2 linked regions of the Homo sapiens genome follow. The protein of the gene in region 1 interacts with the protein of each later gene in a pairwise test. Each region holds a gene or a part of one and is shown on either strand. Other genes may lie near its edges. The genes, in order: PEX5L and PEX7.

Region 1 (3,919 bases):
AGCCAGGAATGAAGTTAGGATACAAAATAGACATCCGCAGGGCTTGGACAGCTGATGTGTAGGGGGGTGGCACAGAGTCAGCTCTGGGCTTTTGCACAGCTGATGTAAACAGGGCCTCTGCAGTGGCACATTTCACAGTGTCCATAAAATAAAGCAAGCCGCTTGGTAAGGAGTCATTCAGCTCTTCCTGGTTTTGATCTGAGAAAATTCTCTTGACACAGTTAATCTAGTGACTAATGCTCTTTGTAAGAGTTTTTTCGTACAGTGCAACAACTATTTTCTAGGATCTCAATGTTTGCCAGTGGCAAAATGCACCAATGCAGTTCAGAAGCAGTCATTCTTTAGATGTCAAAAGAGTGAAATCTAGTTATACAGTTCTCTGATGACTTACTAAATAAATAATAGTAATAAGGATGATGATGGCAAAAATAATAATCATCATAATAAATGCCTGCTAGGCATTGAGCATCTGCTCTGTGCTAGGCAATTACATTTAACCTGTACAAAATCCTGAAAAATAATCATTACCTCTTTCTCTCTCTTTTTTTAACAAGTGAAGAAATTGAGGCTAAAAATTATAGACCAGAGTCACAAAACCGGTACATGGCAGAGCTGTGATTTTAACACAGGCTTGTCTGATTATTAAAGCCTGGCTCTTTCAGAGAATGAGAAAGGGTTTACATCTTTTGTGGGGTTCAAAACTAACATTTAGTTCTTTTTCCAAATTATGAAAGTAATACCGGTTTATTTAGAAAATAGAAAAAATGGGAAAAGAAAGAAGAAAAAAGATTACCCATACTTTCATTATCTGAAAGAAATAAAGGTCATTTCTAGGCCCTGGTAATGGGAAAAAGAAAGAGAGGACGCAGACCTTAACGACGAAGGACGAGAATGAGAAAGGCATTTTAAACTATAAGCCCAGTTGTGTTTTTTCTTTTCTCCCAACTAACTTGATTGGTATATTAGGTTTAGAAAACCTGGACTCTTAGTTTTGCTTTGCTAAACACTGATTCTGGGACTTTCTGAAAGTCATTTTGCCAGGTCCCCTTGCCCACACCCCCAAGGCTCTTTTTTCCTTAAGTGGAAAATGAAAGATTGACGGGTACTATTTCTTGAAGAGTTGCCCTTGGGGGTGTTGAAAATGCTGATAACTTGTCCTAATCCAGGCCAACTGAATCAAAATCTCAGGGGCCAGGAATTGGGAATCTGCATTTCCCAAGATGCGGAGCCAACTGCTGCTCTCTAAAGATTGAGAACCAGAGAAGCACAGGGTTCCTGCTCAAACAGGCCTTGGGATCTGAAGGCTCCACATTCACCCTTAACGGCAGGAGGAGGAATACTCCTACCAAGGCAGGCATTTTTACTTGGAAACAACCTTTCAGATTATTCGACCTCAGTCCTGGGCATGGCCTTCATCCTTGGCCTGTTGCTGTACTTCACCTGTAGGCGCCCAGGTTGATGCAGCTTATTCCTAGGTTGTATCTGGACCGGATGAATCCTGGCTGAATCTCCAGTGCTCGCGTATAGGCCTCCACGGCTTCCTCGCTGCGGTCTCCGTTCGCCAAGGTCGCCCCGAGGCGGTTCCATAGTGAATAGTCCTGATGACAAAATCAGAACTTTCTAACAACCCAGTACAAGGCACAATGACAGAGCATTCCTGTATTTCTCTGCAGAGAAAGGAAGATGGCTAAAAATTTATGCAGTGCTCATGGATGGAGACCATGGCCAGGTGAATTACTAAAAAATCTTCACGGACAGTTTTGTCAAATGACTTTCACTCGTCAATGAACAGCTACCATTTGATGTTGTCATCAACAACATCAATTAGTGTTTCTATTTTAGGTATTTCAATATTAGTGTTTGTATTTCAGGTATTTCAATATTAACAGCCACAGTAGCACATTATTATTAGTACCCATCACTTTAAACCATTGGAGTCAGGGAAATAAAGTGCAGAAGAAATGTAGACGGTGTAGCCTGTGAAAACTTATTTGTTACAGAGAACGCTGTGGTTTCTTGCTGTGCTGTGCTGTCTTACCTCTGGCCGAACAGTTAAGGCAGCGTTAAATGCATCTATTGCTCTATTAAATTCTCCACTCAGGTGGAACAGAACCCCTAGACCTGTCTGCAGGTCTGGGTCGATCATATCTCCATTTTGGTGGGCAGCTTCCAGATATAATTCCTTCACCCCTTCCAGAACAGAGCTACAAGAGAAAAAAAAAATTAGATTTGTAATCCAAATAGTCAGAACATAAATGATTTACTGTTAAATCCCTTGACTGTATTTCAAGAAGTCTCTTCGTTACAGACTGGAAAATTTTGCTTAAAATACCTTAACTCAATGAGAGGACTATTAATGCTGAATGTTTTAAAATATGGTTGAATTTCATGAACTATTTTGTTGTACACGGATACAGACTGTGCTAAGTAAGGTCTTCACGAGGCGAGTTCTGTTGACTCTATGAGTGCCAATGTGGAAAACCCCACAGCTAAGTTTCCCAAGGCCTCAGTGAATAAGGATTTAACATAAGGATTTATTGCTGATAGAAAACAAAATTTCTAGGCCGGGCGTGGTGGCTCACGCCTGTAATCCCAGCACTTTGGGAGGCCGAGGCGGGCGGATCACGAGGTCAGGGAATCAAGACCATCCTGGCTAAGGTGAAACCCCGTCTCTACTAAAAATACAAAAAATTAGCCGGGCGTGTTGGCGGGCCCTTGTAGTCCCAGCTGCTCGGGAGGCTGAGGCAGGAGAATGGCGTGAACCCGGGAGGCGGAGCTTGCAGTGAGCCGAGATTGTGCCACTGCACTCCAGCCTGGGCGACAGAGTGAGATTCCGCCTCAAAAAAAAAAAAAAAAAAAAAAAAAAAGAAAACAAAATTTCTAGAAGACGAGACTTTCATTTTCCCCATTCCTAATTCTCAGGCTGGATAAAACTTGGAGCATTGGTATTTATTATACTTCACCTTGGGTGAATTCTGTGTCCAAAGCATTTGACTTTAAAATGTGGCACTCAGATAAATGTCTGTGAGTGCCCACAATGTAGATCATGTGCCCGAAGGTTGGCCCTGGTCTAAGCATTAATCTTTCTAACGAGTGATGCTCCTCCAGCAGAATACTGTCCTGCAAACCATTCTGGAGTGGGTGGTGTCTAGGGTGTGAGGCTCATTAGTTGCCCTTTAGGTGATTCATTGTATATATGGGTGTTTACTGCCAGCTGTAATATAACGAGAAGGATACCTATCAACTGGGGACTTAGACATCCGCCGGGTGAGGCCTGGAGATCCCTTCTTGCTTTTCACAAGGTATTTGTACTTTGGATTTTGCTTAATCCAATTCTTCAGAGCGTCACAGGCATCCTGCTGATGGCCAGTGTTAGTATAACTCACAGCCAAGGCCATCAAAGCTTTTAAGTTGTTGGGCTGTAATTCTAAGCACCTGAAAAAAAAAAAGAAGCCAATTTCAGATTTTTTTTTGAGCCACAATCTAACAGTTCTTCAGAAAATGTGGGGGGTCTTTATTAACTAAATACTGCAAAAGCATTGGTAAGCTTGCTTATGTCAAGTTCCTGGAAAGCACCATATTTATCCACATAAAAATGGAGACCTCAGCATATTTTTAAGAAAGTTAAAACTTACCCTAATGATTGCTAGGTTTGGTAATTTTAATAAGTAGCTTTAAAACTATGTGGCTTATCCCTGCACATGATTTATTAGTGCTTAATCTAATGAGATCTCATGAGAAATAGGGGATATCATTATTTTAATGCTGCTTTTTTTTTTTTTTTTTTTTTTTTTTTTTTAGACAGAGTCTCACTCTGTCACTGAAGCTGGAGTGCAGTGGTGTGATCTTGGCTCACTGCAACCTCTGCCACCTGGACTCAAGCGATTTTCCTGCCTCAGCGTCCGAATAGCTGGGATTA
Region 2 (3,919 bases), on another chromosome or scaffold:
AAAAATTAGCCAGGTGTGATGGTACATGCCTGTGGTCCCAGCTACTGGTGAGGTTGAGACAGGAGGATCATATGAGCCCAGGAGGTGGAGGCTACGGTGAGCTGTGATTGCACCACTCTACTCAACCTAGGCAACAGGGTGAGACCCTGTCTCTAAAGAGAAAAAGAAAAAAGAAAAAAAGAAAACTACTACCATTATAGACTCATGAGTCTTCAGTCTAACTGGTGGGCCATGTAAATCTGAATGTGCAAGCACTAAGAGCTAATAATGAAAATAAATCAAGTATTTCTCTGAGTTTTAGAAGTAACATTTTTTTCTGCTGTAGGACAAAACAAAAAAATACAATAGACCACTGACATTATGAAATGAGTTTTTGCATCTCGCTTCAGTGCGTATAATAGCTAGGACATGAATTAAGGCAAAAGCGAGAATGAACCTACGCCTTTTCATCTAGTCCACGGACTAGATGGACTCTTTTTTTTGAGACGGAGTTTTGCTCTTCTTGCCCAGGCTGGAGTGCAATGGCACGATCTCGGCTCACCGCAACCTCTGCCTCCTGGGTTCAAACTATTCTCTTACCTCAGCCTCCCGAGTAGCTGGGATTACAGGCATGCGCCACCACGCCCGGCTAATTTTGTATTTTCAGTAGAGATGGGGTTTCTCCATGTTGGTCAGGCTGGTCTGGAACTCCCGAACTCAAGTGATCCGCCCACCTCGGCCTCCCAAAGTGCTGGGATTACAGACGTGAGCCACCGCACGGCGCTTGGCCTTTTTTCTTTTTAAGACGGGGTCTCAGTCTGTCACCCAGGCTGGAGTGGAGTGATGTGATCTCAGCTCACTGGGCTGGGGCAGAGTGATGTGATCTCAGCTCATTGTAGCCTCAACATCCCGGGCTCAAGCGATCCTCCCGCCTCAGCCTCCTGAGCAGCTTTAACCACAGGCTGAGCCAATGCGCGCGACGGGAGACAATTAACTGGAGTCTGTAACACCTACTTGCGAATGTGTGCATTCCTCGTTAGACAACTACAGGTAAGAACTGAACTTGATATATTTCATGGTGTCACCCGTGGGACTCCAGGCGTCCATTCAGGAGCATCGTCCTTAGGAAGGCCAGCCCGCAGGTCGCAGCTCAGTGCTCGAATGCAGACTGGGAATTGTGGGCCAACTCGCGAGCCCTGGGTCGGTTCTGGCTCAGACCGTCTTCCCCGTACTGCTGTGCCGAGCGGACCGATCCAAGGGACCGCGCAGGCTCCCCCGGCTCTCCCTACGGGGACGTGTGCCTGGGCGTGTGACACGTGGCGGAGGCAGCGCGGTCTCAAGGAACAAGGACACGGGCTACTAGGCTACACGTATATGCACTTGCACACAACTGGAAGATCGACTCCTGCTTCAGACCAACTCCTCGCACTCGGCAAAGAAAGGAGAAGCGCCGACCAGCGCCTCTTCTGCCCCCTGGCGTGGACCCGCGGAACCGTCTACGCTCAGAGGGGCTTTCCCTCGAGCGCGAGGAACTGGAGCCCGGCTGGCCCCCGCCTCCGCCTCCGCCCCCCGGCCCCAGCTGCGCGGCGCCGCCTCACCCGCGATGCCGTAGTGCTGCGCGGTGGCGCAGGCCAGGCGGCCCGGCAGGTACGGGGAGAACTCGGCGGCGTAGCCGTGGCGTCCCGGCGTCCGCAGCATCCGCGCCGCTCCACCGCACACCGCACTCATCCCGCCCGCCGCCCCCGGCCCTCGCTGCCCCGGCCGCGGAAGCCGTTCCGAGTCGGAGGCACACTGGCGCGGTTAGAGAGACCAGGCAGACCGGACGGAAGTGTGGGCCCCGTGCCCTGTGTTTGAGATTCTGATTGGTCCGCACAGGAAAGGGCGTTGACTCCGACGGAGACCATTTTTGTTTTGGGTGAATCCAAACTGAATTGCGCCTGCTGCAAAGATACAGATCTATCAGGGGAGTGATCCAGGGTTAGGTATTATTAATAATTACGACAGCTTTTGTCGTTGCATCTCAGCCTCCTCTGCGGTGCTATCTGGTTTTTATTTCATTGAGCGTTTGGAAGACTGGCATCAGGAACTTTTCCTGATGATTATAAAGTGAGAAAAGTTACAGCCGACTCTGAAACCACGCAGCGCGTCCAAAATTGCGTGCTGCGTTGCCCAAGGAAACTGGAAGCAATGAGAACTTAAGTCCGTGGAGTCACTGCGGTCTTTAGGAATAAGAGCGTGGGCTGGTGGGCTACTTTCACACTGTAACTGGAAAAGATGAAACACCAACTCCAAACCAACTCCCCATGCTTGGCAAGTGAGAAAAAGGAGCTGGCCAGTTCTAATGAAGCTAAGCAAAAAAGCAGCACATCATCATATACAACTTTTTTAAAAAGTATTACTATACATGTATATATTGTATGGTAATAAGTGCTCAGATGCTGGTGCTCATTCATTCATTTATTGCCAGGCATATACTATGTGGAGAATGACCAAATATAATTTATCTGCCAAACCAAGATACTTTTGAGAGTAAAGAGGGTGTAATTATTAAGCCAGGTCAACAGGCACAAACCAAGTCGTATGATCATCTTAACCATATACCAAGAACAGTACTAGGCATTTGGGATTCAAAATAATGGGATATGGTCCATGGCCTCAAGAGATTAGAGAAGAAGACTAAAAGAGAAGTCATGTAATTAGTTAAGTGTAATCAAAATACTGTAGAGGCTATGATAAATTTATATGGGGTATTTTTAAAAGGTGATTGTCCGTGCCAGAGGTATGGAAATTGCAGGAAAGGCTGCAGAAGAGAGATAAGTCTTTATGGTGATTGCACACAGATGAGTAGGTTTTCTTTAGGTAGACAAGAAGATGGAGATCTTTGTAGGAGCAGGAATAACATGAGCAACCCAGGAGATTTAAACCAGCATGATCCATAGGGGGTCGTGGCTGCCAGGACTCAGCCTGGCCAGATGGAAGGGATACGGTGAAAAAAATATTGGGTGGGGAGACTGTAGAGTGTTTTACTGGGGCTAGATCATGAAGAGTCTTATATACCATACTAAGAGAATTGGATTTCTACTGTAAACAGTGAAAAACAGTGGAAGTTTTCTAATGTGAGAAATTAAATGACCAAGGTTTTATTTTAAAAAGTCCTGCAACACTAATATGGAGGATAGAGTTTGGAGATGGGGAGGCCAGTTAAAAGACTTTTGCAGGCCGGGCGCGGTGGTTCACACCTGTAATCCCAGCACACTAGGAGGCCGAGGCAGGCGGATCACTTGAGGATCCAGACCAGTGTGGCCTCTATTATTTTGGATTTTTATCATATGTAGTCACTGGAATGTATGCTGCATGAGGGCAGAAATTTTTGCTTGTTATGTTCGCTGTTGTATCCCAAGGACCTGGTATTTAAGCATTCAGGAAATGTTGAGTGAATGCAGCCTAATACAGTGCCTAAATGATCAGTGTGTTTTTCGTAATACTACAAAAAGTAACCTGGAAACATTCTGGAGTTTATTGAAATGCTAAATAGGCGTTAATAAAATATCAAAGTAAGCAAACATGAAGCAGCTGGGACCTTGGCAAAGAGTTGTATATAAAGAGTTATCCAATCTAAGCTAAAAATAGTGTGGTATCTCTGGGAGGGAGAAAGGCTGGTTCCAGCTGGGGTAAACTATTTACAGTGACCTTGGACATACACACACACACACAAACTGAGCTATTACCTGCTCCTTACCTAACCATACATGATTATAGCATTGTAAAATATTTCATCCCACCTGTGAAGCTTTCTAAAATATAAACAACTAAACATATAAAAAATAAACCATACTCTTACACTAGATTTTGAGCATCTCGAAGTAATGTCCAAGTCTAATTTGTTTGTGTCTCCAGTACCTTGAAGAATGTCCAATATATAGTAAACACTGCACAAATG

The links.
Region 2: the proteins of PEX5L (region 1) and PEX7 interact in a two-hybrid assay, tested with the Homo sapiens proteins (one study listed by BioGRID).

Annotation. Positions count from the first base shown.
Region 1 is NC_000003.12:179,806,234-179,810,152, forward strand, and holds part of PEX5L (PEX5-related protein), read right to left. Parts: intron 3,436-3,919; coding exon 3,238-3,435; intron 2,205-3,237; coding exon 2,039-2,204; intron 1,599-2,038; coding exon 1,441-1,598; intron 1-1,440. UniProt on the Homo sapiens protein: Accessory subunit of hyperpolarization-activated cyclic nucleotide-gated (HCN) channels, regulating their cell-surface expression and cyclic nucleotide dependence.
Region 2 is NC_000006.12:136,820,454-136,824,372, reverse strand, and holds the start of PEX7 (peroxisomal biogenesis factor 7), read right to left. Parts: upstream 1,782-3,919; 5' UTR 1,708-1,781; coding exon 1,578-1,707; intron 1,476-1,577; exon of another isoform or gene 1,010-1,475; coding exon of another isoform or gene 994-1,009; intron 1-993. UniProt on the Homo sapiens protein: Receptor required for the peroxisomal import of proteins containing a C-terminal PTS2-type peroxisomal targeting signal. Specifically binds to cargo proteins containing a PTS2 peroxisomal targeting signal in the cytosol.